3 separate regions of the Homo sapiens genome follow, and regions 2 and 3 are each linked to region 1. Evidence: fine-mapped expression QTL. A gene starts in region 1. Each other region holds a variant in brackets. All regions are shown on one strand. Distances are from middle to middle.

Region 1 (5,524 bases):
CTCCTGAGTAGCTGGGATTGCAGGCACGTGCCACCACGCCCAGTTAATTTATTGTATTTTTAGTGGAGATGGGGGGTTTCACCAAGTTGGCCAGGCTGGTCTCGAACTCCTGACTTCAAGTGATCCACCCGCCTCAGCCTCCCAAAGTGCTGGGATTACAGGCGTGAGCCACCTCGCCCGGCTGGAAAAACGTGTTTTTAAAGGTCTGGCAAAAAAAAAGGCAAATGTTAACAATAGTTGTCTTCAAGTATGCAAACAGGAATTGTTTTTCCTACTTCTTTCGGTTAATTCATTCAAACAATATTCAGGAAGCACCTGCTAGGTGCCAGGCCTGGCACTAGGCTCTGGGATCTGGACAAGGGTCCTTCCCTCCAGGAGCTTCCAATCTGGAGGGAAGCATGCGGTGAGCCAATGAAAATGCAGGGTGATCAACAGGAGTTTGTGAGCACGCCTAGCAGGTCCCCAAAGAAGGAGGCAGCTGGGGAGAGTGAGAGGAGGTGCACTTCAGAACTCAGATGGCTGGCTTGGTGGTGGAGGCCGTCCACCTGCCACCACCTTCCGGGACCTGCATCCCCAGCTGAACTGCATCCTTGGAGGTCTGAACCCAGTGGCCCCGTGGCCAGGTGGGCTTGGGAGTTGCTAGCTGGGGCTGATGTGGTAGTTCACAACCTCCTGGTGTTCCACACAAACCACCTGGAGATTCTGCCAATCCTGCTCCACACTGGGGTCCCAGGGCCCATCACACGAACTGGAAATTAATGGACCCATTAACCTAGCAGCTAGAGGGCTTCAATTAGTACAAGGAAACAAAACATATTTTGTAGATGGCTGTCCATTTTGGAGTTTATCCTCTAATACTGAGCTGTCCTAGCAGACAAGAAACGACAGGCACCCAAGGCATTAGAAAAATGTTTGAGAGAAAAACTAATGACAACATTGGGTGTAGTGGTGTGTGCCTGCAGTCTCAGCCACTAGGGAAGCTGGGGTGGGAGGATCGCTTGAGCCTAGCAGTTTGAGACTACAGTGAGCTGCCACAGCATTCCAGCCTGGGTGACAGAGGGAGACCCTAAAAAACAAACAAACAGAAAACTAATGACAGAGAGGATTCCATCTCTCCTCTTCCTTTCTTTTCCTTTCTATTTTGTTTTCCTTTGTATTCCTTTGATTTGGGGACCCTCTTTTGGGGGGTTGCAGCTATGGAAACACAGTGTAGCAGGGTTTCGGGTCCTGGAGAAGGTTTGAGGCTGGAAGAGGGCTGTGGGAAATCTTGAGGGAGGCCTGGCTCCATCCGCACTCTGCTATGGGACCCTGGGCAGGGTGGCTCCCTCATTCTTTGGGAGGAGGTGACAAAGGGGAAGTCTTTGGGCAGCTGGTGGCGGGAACGGGAAGGCCAGACCTGGCCTGAGACCCACCAGGTGCTCGGGGTTATTTGCTGAGTGCAGGGTACGTGACCCCAAGGGGCCTTCGCGGAACAATCACTCGACGTTGGCGGAGGGGAGGAAGCCGCAGAGAGGGTGTCGTGAGGGAAAGGTGGGTGCAGGGGAAATGGCGCTTTAACCCACTCAGGGCCAGAGGCTCAGCCGAGACTATCCAGGTGGGAACTTGTCCCTCCGGATGACAGGTGATGAAACTGAGGGAAGGGGACTCGCCCTGGCAGTGAAACGGGATGGGCGCTGGGACCAGGTGCCCCGGCAGATCCTCTCCCAAGCCCAGTTCCGCTCCCGCTCAGTCCTCAACCTTCCCCAGCTGGAGAGGAGGGAGGGGCGCCTGCGGATCCGAGGCGAGCGCGGAGGCCGGGCGACTCCAACCGGCTCGCCCCGTGCCCAGCTCGTACCCAGGCCGTTTCCCGCACGGGGAGGGCCCTTCCCGCTTCTGGGCAGGTCCAAATCCTCACCCTCCCTAAGGCCGGCGCCGACGCTGCCAGCCCGGCAGAGCCCCCTCCTGCCGGCCGCTCTCCATCCCCGTCCCCGGTCGCATCCGCTCCGGGGCGAGCACCGCCCGACGCCCAGGCTTCCCCCGGACGGAGGAGCGCGACTCACCCACGGTGGCCGGGCAGAGCCTGCCTCGAACCCGGCTTCTCCCCGACGCCCTCTCTCCAGCCCCGGGACCCAACCGGGTGGGGCTGCCCTCGAGGGCTCCGGAGCCAGGCGCGTCCTGCCCGCGAGGGCCGGGGCTCCGGGTCCCGCCGCCGCGCTCCACTTCGGGGCGCAGTTGGGGTGGAGGCGGTGGCCGGGACCGCCGCGCGGGGTTCGTGCGCGCACAAATGTCGCCTCCAGAACAGGTGGCCCGGGCTAGGGCGGCGGCCCAGCCCCTCCGCCCCTGCCCCTGCCTTCCCGAGGCGCCTCCTCCCCACTGCGAGCCGCAGGATCCCCCTGGAGCCCCCGTCCCCCGCAACATCGGCGCGGCCCCTCGTACCTCTAGCTCCAGCGGCGGCGGGCGGCGGACAGCGGGGCCCCGGCGGGCGGGCGGCGCGGCGGCCGGAGGGCAGTGCCTGGGGCCCGGCGGGAGGCAGCACCGCCCCTCCGGCCCGGGGCGGGGTCAGGCCGCCCCGCCCCGCCCGTCCCGACCTACCCTGCGGGTCCCGGTCCCCAGAGCCCTTGCGGGGTCCCCGCGACCCCGCCCGCGCGCCCTCGCTGCTCCCCGGGGCGGGTGCGGACAGTCCCCAGTCCGCCGGCCAACAGGTAGGGAGCGCTCCCCGGCCTCCGCGCCGCCAGTATTACGGGTTACCATCCCGTTTTCCCCATTGAACTGATGAGAAAACTGAGGTTCAGAGGGTTGAGTACCTCGATATTCTGCAGTGGAGAAGGGACGCTGTCACCCCTGGGACCCGGGTCGGCCTGATCCCACCGCCTCCTGCCGGGACCGTGCTAAGGGCATTGCCTGCATCACCCCAGTGTTTGCGGAATTCCAGTTATTTGCTGTATCCTTAACGCCGCCCCGTCCTTTCTCTACTCCTCCTCCTCACTCTCACCTCGCCCCATCTTCACACATATTGCTATTGGTAATTTGTTCAATGTGAGAAATTGGAATGTATCACACACAATTCGTGTATCATAAAACTGTATTTTATTCTCTTTGGAACATGCCATGTTTCCAGCATGTCACAGTCCTGGTGCTTTTAGTTCTTACTCCTCTGGGACAACAAAGACTGCAAAAAATGAAACCATTGGGTGACTTCTTGAGTGCTGACGCCCATCCTCTCACTCAGCTGATGACCCAGTGCCCAAGCCACTGAGAAAATGGAACCTCTATCCTAGCCCTGAGAAAGAGCCTGGCACTCAATGGGTGCCCAATAAATACACTTCGAATGAAGGAATCAGTAGAAAATTCCCACCAGCTCCCCCACCCACCCGCTGAGGTAGCACCCAGTCCCTTCCCTCTTGGGACCGGGCTGAACCCGTCCAGCTCCTGGCCACGACCACCCCCTCCAGAAGATCCCGACCCTTCACGCCAACACTGATCCCGAAACCCTGCCCTCTCTCCATTCTCCCTGGGTCATTCCCATCACAGGCTGTTACTTCTCCCATCTTAAAACGGAAACAAGAGGCCAGGCAAGCACTCACGCCTGTAATCCCAGCACTTTGGGAGGCCAAAGCAAGCAGGTCACCTGAGATCAGAAGTTCAAGACCAGCCTGGCCAACATGGTGAAACTCCATCTCTACAAAATACAAAAATTAGCTGGACATGCTCACTTGAACCCAGGAGGTGGAGGTTGCAGTGAGCCTAGATCATGCCACTGCACTCCAGCCTGGGTGACAAGAGCCAGACTCTGTCTCAAAAAAAAAAAAAAAAAAAAAAAAAAAAAGAATGAATGCGGACCCTTTCTCCACTGGTAATACTCATTTTTTTTTTTTTTTTTTTTTTTTTTTGAGAAGAGACTCACTCTGTTACCTAGGCTGGAGTGCAGTGACACCATCTCGGCTCACTGAAACCTCTGTCTCCTGGTTTCAAGTGATTCTCCTGCCTCAGCCTCCTGAGTAGCTGGGACTACAGGCATGCACAACCATGGCTAATTTTTGTATTTTTAGTAGAGACAGGGTTTCACCATGTTGGCCAGGCTGGTCTTGAACTCCTGACCTCAAGTGATTCACCCGCCTCAGCCTCCCACAGTGTGGTGATTACAGATGTGAGCCACGGCACCTGGCCCACTTGTAATACTTTTAATGCTTTTGCTTTATGTTGGCTTTTCCATGATCACAAATGTATTTTTCAGAGAAACTTTGTATTGCTACCCTAAATGGAACACCAGTATCTCAGAGACTAGAAGGCAACAGTAAAAATAAAACTAAAACAATGTTATAAAGCCCGGGTAGGTCCTGTTGCCCCTCCAAGAGCTGAGTTCCTCCTGCCCTCTCCTTGTTAAAAGGAAGATTCATCCCAGCACTTTGGGAGACCGAGGCGGGCAGATCACAAGGGCAGGAGATCGAGACCATCCTGGCTAACAAGGTGAAACCCCGTCTCTACTAAAAATACAAAAAAATCAGCCAGGCGTGGTGGCGGGCACCTGTAGTCCCAGCTACTCAGGAGGCTGAGGCAGGAGAATGGCGTGAACCCGGGAGGCGGAGCTTGCAGTGAGCCGAGATCGCGCCACTGCACTCCAGCCTGGGCGACAGAGTGAGACTCCGTCTCAAAAAAAGAAAAAAAAGGAAGATTCGAAAGGTGTAGAGAGATATTCAAGGCAGGCCAGCACCCAGCAAAGACTTGCCCCTGGACTTAAGCAAAGGGATTAAAGAGAATTGAGAAGGGAATGGCTTTCTTAGAATAGCCATCGCTGGAGCTGTGCCCAGACCCACAAGCTCTTCCTGGCTATGTCTGGGGAAACGGTCTCCTTGCAGCTTGTTAATCTCACAACCCTCTGAGGTCACCCTGTTATCCCCATTTTACAGATGAAAAAAACGGAGGCTGGGCCAGGCGCAATGGCTCACGCCTGTAATCCCAGCACTTTGGCAGGCCAAGGCGGGCGGATCATGAGGTCAGGAGATCGAGACCATCCTGGCCAACATGGTGAAACCCCGTCTCTACTAAAAATACAAAAATTAGCTGGGCGTGGCGGCGTGCCCCTGTAGTCCCAGCTCCTCGGGAGGCTGAGGCAGGAGAATCACTCGAACCTGGGAGGCAGAGGTTGCAGTGAGCTGAGATCATGCCACTGCACTCCAGTATGGCGACAGAGCGAGACTTCATCTCAAAAACAAACAAACAAAAAAAAACGGAGGCTGTTGGCTGGGTGCAGTGGTTTAAGCCTGTAATCCCAGCACTTGGGTGGCCGAGGCATGCGGATCACCTAAGCTCGGGTGTTCAAGACCAGCCTGGCCAACATGGCAAAATCCCATCTCTACTAAAAATACAAAAATTAGCCAGATGTGGTGGTGCCTGCCTGTCATCCCTGCTACTCAGGAGGCTGAGGCAGAATTGCTCGAACCTGGGAGGCAGAGATTGCAGTGAGCCGAGATCATGCCACTGCACTCCAGCCTAGGTGAGAGCGAGACCCCGTCCCAGAAAAAAGAAAAATACTGAGCCCAAGATG
Region 2 (5,524 bases), 42 kb before region 1:
CCAGTTTGTGAAATCCTGTTTTTTTTTCCCCTCTGTCAAAACAGAACAGAGTCATTTGGGGATTTTTATTGCCTCTCATTTTTTTTTAAGCCTTGTTTTCCCAGCGTGGCTGGGATGTTGAGTTTCCTGTTGAAGAAATATTTGGGTTGATTTGGCTCTGAGGCCTGTTAGGCAGGTGGGGGACTTCCCTGGGACAGGGAACAGGATGAGGGGGCTCAGAGGCTGGAGTTTACAAAAGTAGAGCTGAAGTTGGGAGGGGTTTCTGGGGCAGGAGTGGGTGGGGCTCAAGCCCAAACCCTGGAGAGGCTCGAGGCAGGGGCAGAAATGGAGGAGGGGGCCAGGCACAGTGGCTCACGCCTGTAATCCCAGCACTTTGGGAGGCTGAGGTGGGCGAATCACCTGACGTCAGGAGTTCAAGACCAGCCTGACCAACATGGAGAAACCCTGTCTACTAAAAATACAAAATTAGCCGGGGTGGTGGCACATGCCTGTAATCCCAGCTACTCGGGAGGCTGAGGCAGGAGAATCACTTGAACGTGGGAAGTGGAGGTTGGGGTGAGCTGAGATCGTGCCACTGCACTCCAGCCTGGGCAACAAGAGTGAAACTCCGTCTCGAAAAAAAAAAGAAAAGGTTTTGTCATGAGGAAGTTTCACACTGCTATTAAAATATTGAATTGCTAAAGGCAAAGAAGGAAGGTGCTGACATTCTCCTGAAATCTGAGGAACTTTAGGGTTGGCATTTGTGTTTTTTAAGCACAATTAGTGTTGACACATATTTGTTGGATGGGTTTCAAGTTCAGACACAGATTTTGTCACAGTGGTCCCTAGTTGATATGGTTTGGCCCTGCGTCCCCACCCAGATCTCACCTTGAATTGTGATAATCCCCACATGTCAAGGGTGGGACTAGGTGGCAGTAATTGTATTATGGGACCAGTTTTCCCCTATGCTGTTTTCATGATAATGAGTGAGTCTCATGAGCTCTGATTGTTTTATAAGCGTTTGACATTTGCCCTGCTGGCACTCATTCTCTCTCCTGCCACCCTGTGAAGAGGTGCCTTCTGTTAAGATTCTAAGTTTCCTGAGGCCTCCCTAGCTATGTGAAACTGTGAGTCAATTAAACCTCTTTATAAACTAACCAGTCTTGGCCAGGTGCAGTGGCTTATGCCTGTAAGCCCACCACTTTGGGAGGCCAGGGTGGGTGGATCACTTGAGTCAGGAGTTCGAGACCAGCCTGGTCAACATGGCGAAACCTCATCTCTACTAAAATACAAAAATTGGCCAGGTGTGGTGGCAGGTGCTTGTAACTCCAGGTACTCATGAGGCTGAGGTAGGAGAATTGTTTAAACCTGGAGGTAGAGGTTGCAGTGAGCCAAGATCGCACCACTGCATTCCAGCCTGGGTGACAGAGCGAGACTCCCTCTCAAAAACAAACAAACAAACAAACAAAAAAACAAACAAAACAAAACCCAGTGTCTTGGGTATTTCTTCATAGCAGAATGAGAACAGACCAGTAAATTGGTAGCAGGAGTTGGGTGCTGCTATAAGCATAACTGAAAATGCGGAAGCAACTTTGGAACTGGGTAACAGGCAGAGGTTGGAACGGTTTGGAGGGCTCAGAAGAAGACAGGAAAATGTGGAAAAGTTTCGAACTTCCTAGAGACTTGGAGGGCTCAAAAGACAGGAAGATGTGGGAATGTTTGGAACTTCCTAGAGACTTGTTGAATGCCTTTGCCCAAAATGCTGATTGTGGTATGAACAATGAAGTCCAGGCTGAAGTGATCTCAGGTGGAGATGAAGAACTTGTTGGGAACTCGGGTAAAGGTCATTCTTGCTATGCTTTAGCAAAGGGATTGGCAGCATTTTGCCCCTGCCCTAGAGATCTGTGGAACTTTGAACTTGAGAAAGATGATTTGGGGTATCTGGCAGAAGAAGCTTCTAAGCGGCAAAGTGTTCAAGAGGAAGCAGAGCATAAAAGTTCAGGAAATTTGCAGCCTGACAATGTGATAGAAAAGAAAAAGCCATTTTCTGGGGAGAAATTCAAGCTGCCTACAGAAATTTGCCTAATGAAGAGCTGAATGTTAACCACCAAGACAATGGGGAAAATGTCTCCAGGGCATGTGAGAGACCTTCACGGCTGCCCCTCTCATCACAGGACCTGAGGCCTAGGAGAGAAAAATGG[T/A]TTCCTGGGCTGGGCCCAGGGTCCCACTGCTCTATGCCACCTTGGGACATAGTGCCCTGTGTCCCAGCTGTTTCAGCTCCTGCCATGGCTAAAAGGAGCCAAGGTCAGGTCAGGCCATTGCTTCAGAGGGTGCAAGCCCCAAGCCTTGGTGGCGTACACGAAGTGTTGGGCCTGCAGGTACACAGAAGTCAAGAATTGAGGTTGGAGAACCTCTGCCTAGATTTCAGAGGATGTATAGAAATGCCTGGATGTCCAGGCAGAAGTTTGTTGCAGGGGCAGAGCCCTCATGGAGAACCTCTGCCAGGGCAGTGCAGAAGGGAAATGTAGGATTGGAGCCACCACACGGAGTCCCCACTGGGGCACTGTATAGAGCAGCTGTGAGAAGAGGGCCACCATCCTCCAGACCCCAAAACAGTAGATACACCAACAGCTTGCACTGTGTGCCTGAAAAAGTCACAAACACTCAACACTAACCTGTGAAAGCAGCCAGGAAGAGGAGCTATATGCCACAAAGACACAGGGGTAGAGCGGCCCAAGGCCATGGGAGCCCACCTCTTGCATCAGCATGACCTGGATGCAAGACATGGAGTCAAAGATCATTTTGGAACTTAAAGGTTCAGTGACTTCCCTATTGAATTTCAGACTTCCATGGGGCCTATAGCCCCTTTATTTTGGCCAGCTTCTCCCATTTGAATGGGTGAATTTACCCAATGCCTGTACCTGCATTGTGTCAGGAAGGAAATAACTAACCTGCTTTTGATTTTACAGGCTCATAGGCAGAAGGGACTTGCCTTGTCTCAGATGAGGCTTTGGACTTGGAGTTTTGGGTTAGTATTGGAGTATGTTTAGATTCTGGGGGACTGTTGGAAGGGCATGATTGTGTCTTGAAATGTGAGGAGATGAGATCTGGGAGGAGCTAGAGGCAGAATGATATGGTTTGGCTCTGTATCCCCACTCAAATCTCACCTTGAATTGTAATAATCCCCACATGTCAAGGGCGGGACCACGTGGAAGTAACTGGATCATGGAGGGCGGTTTCTCCCATGCTGTTCTCATGATAATGAGTGTGTCTTATGAGATCTGATGGTTTTATGTGTCTGGCATTTCCCCTGCTAGTGCTCATTCTCTCTCCTGCCGCCTTGTGAAGGGGTGCCTTCTGCCATGGTTGTAAGTTTCCTGAGGCCTCTCCAGCCATGCAGAACTGTGAGTCAATTAAACCTCTTTTCTTTATAAATTACCCAGTCTCGTGGATGGCTGTACCACCCTGAATACGCACAATCTCATCTGATAAATTACCCAGTCTAGGGTATTTCTTCATAGCAGTGTGAAAATGGAGTAATACACTGACCTTACCTCACACTTCCCATCTCATTATTATTATTTTAATTTAGTCATGGTAAAACAAGCCTGGTGCAGTGGTTCGCTTCTGTAATTTCTACACTTTGAGAGGCTGATGCCAGAGGATTGGTTGAGGCCAGGAGTTAGAGACCAGCCTCAGCAACATAGCAAGACCCTCTCTCTATTAAAAAATAATAAGACCGGGTGCAGCGGCTCATGCCTGAATTTCAGCACTCTGGGAGGCATTTTGAGCCACTGCACTCCAGCCTGGGTAACAGAGCGAGACCCTGGCTCAAAACACAAAAAAATTGTGGTAAAATATACACAAGATAAAAATCGATCCTTCTGGCCATGTGTAAGTGTACAGTTCAGGAGTGTTCAGTGCATTCACATTGTTGTGGGGAGTCATGCTCTTTATTTTGAATATTACCCTGCAGGGTTGTGGAGGTGTGCATTTCTTGTTTCTCACTGAGCCTTCACTGTGATCAATCCCTGTTGTTTCCTCCCAGACTCAAATAGAATGAACGCCCCCTGATATTTTAGCCTGGAGGGGATCACATTTGGGGACTTTAGACCAAGCTGGGGTCAAAGGTGATGTTCCACCACCCTTTGCCTTCAGCCCCCAGCCTGGCTCAGCAGCACAGGAGAGGACTGCTGGGTGGGCTTCCTCCATGACCTAGTGGAGGATCTTCCAGGGCAGAGTAGGCCCTTATTGTCTCTGAGATACCCCTCCACCCAGAAACAGCTGGTCCAGCAGCATGGTGGTGGCATGACCTCCTGAAGGCTCAGGTACAACCCCAGTTGGGAGGAAACACGCTGAAAAGATGAGGCTCTGTCTTGTAGGATACAGTGTGTGGTGACTCAGAGACCCGCACATTCCATGACAGAACACACAGCCAGGAATCATGACTGCACTGAGTCATCACCCACAGAATTGTCATTTCCGGTTCCTGAAACTTGGAGCTCTGCTGGGGTAAAGGTCTTGGTCCCCAAGAGAGGAGTGTTTCTACCAGCAGACAACAATGGTTCCACTTAGTCAGAAGCTGAGATTGCCACCTGGCCATGTTAGGCTCCTTATCCACTGAACCAAAAACGCATGCACACACACGCAAAAGAAAATAATGCACGCACACTCACAAACGTATACGTATTTTACTCATACATACATACATTTCTTCCTTTCCTCCTCCTCACTCTTCTCCCCTCCTGTCTAACTTCCTATTGTCTTCTCCTCTCTTCCTCCTTCCCCGGATTTATTTCAGCATTGATGTTGGTGATTAAGTTTAAAATGTATTATATAAATATTTTATATATATTTAACTACTTAATTTTTTTTTTGAGACATGGTTTTGCCATGTTGCCCGGGCTGGTCTCGAACTCCTGAGCTCAAGGGATCCGCCTGCCTTGGCCTCCCAAAGTGCTAGGATTATAGGCATGAGCCACCATGCCTGGCCTATACATCTATACATTTTCTTTGCTTTTCTTTCTTTCTTTTTCTCTTTCTTTCTCTTTCTTTCTTTCTTTCTTTTCCTTCCTTCCTTCCTTCCTCCCTCCCTCCCTCCTTTTTTTTTTTTTTTTTTTCTGGAGTCTCGCTCTGTCACCCAGGCTGGAGTGCAATGACGTGATCTCTGCTCACTGCAAGCTCTGCCTCCCGGGTTCACGCCATTCTCCTGCCTCAAACTCCCAAGTAGCTGGGACTACAGGCACCTGCCACCACTCCCAGCTAATTTTTTTGTATTTTTAGTAGAGACGGGGTTTCACCGTGTTAGCCAGGATGGTCTCGATCTCCTGACCTCGTGATACAACTGCCTCGGCATCCCAAGTGCTGGGATTACAGGTGTGAGCCACCGTGCCCGGCTCTCCCTTCCTTCCTTTTCCTTCTTTCTTTCTTTTCTTTCACTTTCTTCTTTCCTTCTTCTCTCTTTTTTCTTTCTTTTCTTTTCTTCTTTTCTTTCCCTCCCTCCCTCCCTTCCTTCCCTTCCTTTTCCCTCCCTTCCTCCCTTCTC
Region 3 (5,524 bases), 35 kb after region 1:
ACCCACCTTGGCCACCCAAAGCGCTGGGATTGCAGGCATGAGCCACCGCGCCTGGCCTTTCTTTACATTTTTTTTGAGACAGGGTCTCCCTCTGTTGCCCTGGCTAGAGTGCAGTGTTGCAATCATGGCTCACTGCAGCCTCAACCTCCCAGGCTCAGGTGATCTTCCTGCCTCAGCCTTCCAAGTAGCTGGGACTACAGGCACATGCCACCATGCCTGGCTAATTTTTTTGATTTTTTGTGGAGATGAGGTCTTACTATGTTACTCAGGCTGGTCTTGAACTCCCGGGCTCAAGCGATCTGCCCACCTTGGCCTCCCAAAGTGCTGGGATTACAGGCGTGAGCCACCGTGCCTGGCCTAAAAATAAATATATAAATAGAATGACTAATTCTGAACGGGACACAGAATCTGCCAGTGCCTTGACTTTTGGACTTTCCGGCCTCTAGGACTTTGAGAATGAAGTGTCTGTTGTTTAGAAGCCTCCTGGTCCTGGGGTATTTGTCACACCTGCCCAGATGGGCTAAGACGGGACCCTTCTGGGTGTTCGGGTAAAAGCTGGCCTCAGAAGCTGGTGATGTTTCCTCAGGAGGCTGCCCATGGTGTGGTCCTGGCGACGCACCAGCAGCACGTCACCCTCTTGACCCGGGCGTGTGCCTGGCTAGCTGAGTTTTAAGCCTCTCTCTGGTGACATTTGGCTTTGGAGAAGGTTCTTTCTCTGGCAAAGCATTTAGATGTAGCTAAAAATACATTATTGGCCAGGTGAGGTGGCTCACGCCTGTAATCCCAGCACTCTGGGAGGCCGAGGCGGGCGTATCACGCGGTCAGGAGATCGAGAGCATCCTGGCCAACATGGTGAAACCTTGTCTCTACTAAAATTACAAAAAAATTAGCTGAGTGTGGTGGTGTGTGCCTGTAATCCCAGCTACTTGGGAGGCTGAGGCGGGAGAATCGCTTGAACTGGGGAGTCGGAGGTTGCAGTGAGCCAAGATCGTGCCACTGCACCGCAACCTGATGACAGAGCAAGACTCTGTCTCAAAACAAACAACAAGAACAACAAAAAACTAAAAAAAACGAAAAATGCAAAAATTAGCCAGGCGTGGGCACCTGTAATCCCAGCTACTCGGGAGGCTGAGGCAGGAGAATCACTTGAACCTAGGAGCCAAGATCTCACCATTGGAGATCTCACTCCAGCCTGGGTGACAAGAGCAAAACTCTGTCTCAAAAAAAAAAAAATCATTGACTTGATCCTCAGCCTGGTCAAATCGAGAAGCAGCACTCATGCTGGAGGGGCCACATAGCCTGGGCTCCTGATTTGCAGGGCCATGGATAAACACACACACGCGCACACACACACGCACGCACAGCCCTTCCCTGAGCTTGGGTGCTCAGTGATAAGCAGAACAAAGTCATCAAACATTCCTCCCTCACTCCTGCTCTGCATAGGGGCTGAGAGCCAAGACATTGGTAGCTTTGTCAAAATGTCAAAATATTGCTAGTCATTGGGCTGGGCACTGTGGCTCATAGCTGTAATCCCAGCACTTTGGACTGATGACTTTCTTTCTTTTTTTTTTTTTTTCTTTTTTTGCGATAGAGTCTTGTGCTGTTGCCCAGGCTGGAGTGCAGTGGTGCGATCTTAACCTCCGCCTCCCGGGTTCAAGCGATCCCTCTGCCTCAGCCTTGCAAGTAGATAGGAATACAGGCGCCTGCCCCACCACCATGGCCAGCTAATTTTTTTTTGTATTTTTAGTAGAGGCGGGGTTTCACTATGTTAACCAGGCTGGTCTCGAACTCCTGACCTCAGGTGATCCACTCGCCTCAACCTCCCAAAGTGCTGTGATTACAGGCGTGAGCCACTGCACGTGGCAAATCCCAGCACTTTGGGAAGCTGAAGCAGGAGGATTGCTTGAGCCCAGGAGTTCGAGACCGGCCTGGGCAACATAGCAAGACCTGTCTCAAAAAAAAAAATTTGCTGCCGGGCACGGTGGCTCACGCCTGTGATCTCAGCACTTTGGGAGGCCGAGGCGGGGTGGATCACCTGAGGTCGGGAGTTCGAGACCAGCCTGACCAACACGGAGAAACCCCGTCTCTACTATAAAACACAAAAATTAGCTGGGCGTGGTGGTGCATGCCTGTAATCCCAGCTACTCGGGAGGCTGAGGCAAGAGAATTACTTGAACCTGGGAGGCGGAGGTTGTGGTGAGCCAAGGTCACACCATTGCACTCCAGCCTGGGCAACAAGAGCAAAACTCCTCTCAAAAAAAAAAAAAATTTGCTAATAGAACATCATACTTTCTGAACATAATATCTGAGATGAACTCTGGGGCACTGTATGAGTCAGCTTAGGCTGACGTAACAAAATACCACAGACTGGGTAGATTAAACAACAGTTTACTTTA[A/ATATTTATT]TATTTATTTATTTATTTATCTTTTAAAGAGACAGAGTCTTACTGTTTTGCCAGGCAGGAGGGCGGTGGGGATATTCATAAATGCAATCACAGAGCCCTACAGCCTCAAACTCCTGGGCTCAAGCGATCCTCCTGCCTCAGTCTCCTGAGTAGCTGGGACTACAGGTGTGCACCACTGTGATAATAGAAATTTATTTTCTCACAACTCTAGAGGCCAGAAGTCTAAGATCAGGGTGTCAGTGGGGTTGGTGTCTTTTGAGGCCTCTGTCCTTGACTTGGAGATGGCCACCTTCTCATTCCCGAGTCTTTGTGCTGCCTTCCCTCTGTGTGTGTTTATGTCCTCATCCCTTCTTCTTCTTTTCTTGGGGGGACAGGTTCTCGCTCTGTCACCCAGGCTGGAGTGCAGTGGTGCAATCTTGACTCACTGCAGCGTTGACCTTCCAGGCTCAAGCCCCTCCCGCCTTAGCTCCCCTAGTAGCAGGGACCACAGGCACATGCCACAGTGCCCAGTTAATTTTTTTTTCCTTTTTTGAGATGGAGTCTCACTCTGGTGCCCAGGCTGGAGTGCAGTGGTGCAATCTTAGCTCACTGCAACCTCTGCCTCCCCGGTTCAAGCAATTCTCGTGCCTCAGCCTCCCAACTAGCTGGGACTACAGGCACCTGCCACCACGCCCGGCTAATTTTTGTATTTTTAGTAGAGACAGGGTTTCACCATGTTGGCTAAGCTGGTCTCGAACTCTTGACCTCAGGTGATCTACCCGCCTTGGCCTCCCAAAGTGCTGGTATTACAGGTGTGAGCCACAGCACCCAGCCCTAATTTTCATATTTTTTTGTAGAGATGAGGTCTTGCCATGTTGCCCAGGCTGGTCTCGAACTCCAGGGCTCAAGTGATATGCCTGCCTTGGCCTCCCAAAGTGCTGGGACTACAGGAGTAAGCCACCACGCCCAGCCTAATCTCTTCTCATAAGGATAGTATGGCCTTTTTTAAAAAACTTAAATACTCACCCATATGACCTTATTTGAACTTAAATACCCCTTTACCCTCTCTCCAAATACGGTCCCATTCTGAGGTACTGGGAGTTAGGGTTTCAGCCAGTGGATCTGGAGGGACATAATTCAGTCACAACAAGCAGGTTTTCCTGCCTTCTCAGCACAGTGTGACCTGTTTCTCTTTTCTTGCCAGAGGGAAGGGGACATTGAATGGTGTCTCTATAATTTGGACATCTCTGCCTTTAGTGTAAAAATTAATCCGTTTTCTGCTGCAAATAATTATTTTTTGCTTGTTCTGGAAAAAAAAAACCCCTATGAATTTAGAGAAGACAAAGCGCCCACTTCGAAAAAGAGCTCCTGGCCGGGCACAGCGTCTCACGCCTGTAATCCCAGCATTTTGGGAGGCCAACGCAGGCTGATTATGAGGTCAGGAGTTCGAGACCAGCCTAACCAACATGGTGAAACCCCGTCTCTACTAAAAATACAAAAATTACCCGGGCGTGGTGGCACATGCCTGTAATCCCAGCTACTCAGGAGGCTGAGGCAGGAGAATCACTTAAACCCAGGAGGCAGAGGTTGCAGTGAGCCGAGATCGCACCATTGTACTCCAGCCTGGGCGACAGAGCGAGACTCTGTCTCAAAAGGAAAAAAAAAAAAAGAGCTCCTGGCCTCTTCTGCACTCACAGCAGCATCACAGCCACTGCCAGGAGCTGGGGTTAGGTGGGAGCCAGTCAGTCCCTGCTGTCCCGCCTGTCCAGTCAGGCTCCTGGCTGTCCTGCCTGCTTACTCTTTCCAGTTGCACCTGCGGATTAGCTGGCAGGGGACCCTCTCTGCATTTGCATGGCTCCCCTGCCCCTTGTTTATGTTTACAAGATCGTTCCACGTGGTGGGATCACATGACTCCTGCATGCCTCCGTGAATCACTTTGAGCCATGTATTCTAGCTCTGAGTATTGGGAATAAAACCTAATATCGTAATAACAAGGGAAATGCAAATTTAACACATGGAGACTTTAACCGGCAAATCAGATGCAAACACCGCATCTGAGGTGAGCTGGCTGGCGCAGTCCTGGGGCTCACGCTCAGCCCCTGAGGATGTAAGGATTGTTAAGAACATGGGGCTAAGCCGGGCTCACACCTGTAATTCCAACACTTTGGGAGGTGGGAGGATCACTTGAGGCCAGGAGATTGAGACCAGCCTGGGCAACATAATGAGACCCTGTCTCTACAAAAAAAATCTAAAAACCCGGGTGTGATGATGCTTGTCTATAGTCACAGCTACTCTGAAGGCTGAGTTGGGAGGATTACTTGAGCCCAGGAGTTCGAGGCTGCAGTGAGCCATTATCGTACCACTGCTCTCTAGCCTGGGTGACAGAGTGAGATATGTCTCTAAAAACAAAAACAAAAAATAAAAGAACATAGAGAGATTTCTATGAATCATCAGGACCACTCTGACATTGCACATCTGGGAAATTTAGGTGACAAATGGGTTTGTGGCTCCTTCTCCATCACTGCAGACTCCTCGGAGGAGCCCTTGGTAGCAGCCAGGGACTACCCAGATCCAGCCTGGAGAAACGAGCTCTGGGGATGAGAGAAAAGATCCAGCGTGGTTTCTGTCTTCAAGGCCTTAAGATCTGGCAAGGACAGGCCAGGTGCAGTGGCTCACGCCTGTAATCCCAGCACTTTGGGAGGCCAAGGCGGGAGGATCACCTGAGGTCAGGAGTTTGAGACCAGCCTGGTCAACATGGCGAAACCATCTCTACTAAAAAGAGAAAAAATTAGCCGGGCGTGGTGGTGGGCACCTGTAATCCCAGCTACTTGGGAGGCTGAGGCAGGAGAATCACTTGAACCCGGGAGGTGGAGGTTGCAGCGAGCCAAGATCCCGTCACTACACTCCAGCCTGGGCGACAAGAGCGAAAGTCCATCTCAAAAATAAAATAAAAGATCTTGCAAGAATACGTGAGCACCTAGAAAAGGTAGGATCCAAGGCCAGGCAGTGGTGCAGGAGGTGAGTCCGGGCACTGGCACTCATGACTCCTCCATTCAGCAGCTGTTATCACAGACCCTCTCTGGCTGTGGACTCCTCATCTGTGAGTTGAGGATAAATATACTTTGCAGGGTGCAGAGACGCAAAGTCCC

Evidence for each region. PIP is the estimated chance that this variant, and not a neighbour inherited with it, causes the effect.
Region 2: its variant is the best candidate, but not a certain one, in a credible set for the expression of A4GALT in fibroblasts (GTEx, PIP 0.56).
Region 3: its variant is the best candidate, but not a certain one, in a credible set for the expression of A4GALT in monocytes after R848 (Quach 2016, PIP 0.73).

The regions. Positions count from the first base shown.
Region 1 is chr22:42,718,382-42,723,905 of GRCh38, forward strand. It overlaps A4GALT (alpha 1,4-galactosyltransferase (P1PK blood group)), which reads right to left and starts at 2,489. Exons shown (of 3, transcript NM_017436.7): 1 at 2,416-2,489. RefSeq lists silencers at 1,929-2,058, 2,139-2,368, 2,399-2,588.
Region 2 is chr22:42,676,370-42,681,893 of GRCh38, forward strand. No RefSeq gene overlaps it. Among named protein-coding and RNA genes, the nearest start is that of CYB5R3, 30 kb to the left of the region's middle. The variant T/A (reference allele first, on the strand shown) is at 2,181.
Region 3 is chr22:42,753,445-42,758,968 of GRCh38, forward strand. No RefSeq gene overlaps it. Among named protein-coding and RNA genes, the nearest start is that of A4GALT, 35 kb to the left of the region's middle. RefSeq lists a silencer at 5,419-5,524. The variant A/ATATTTATT (reference allele first, on the strand shown) is at 2,397.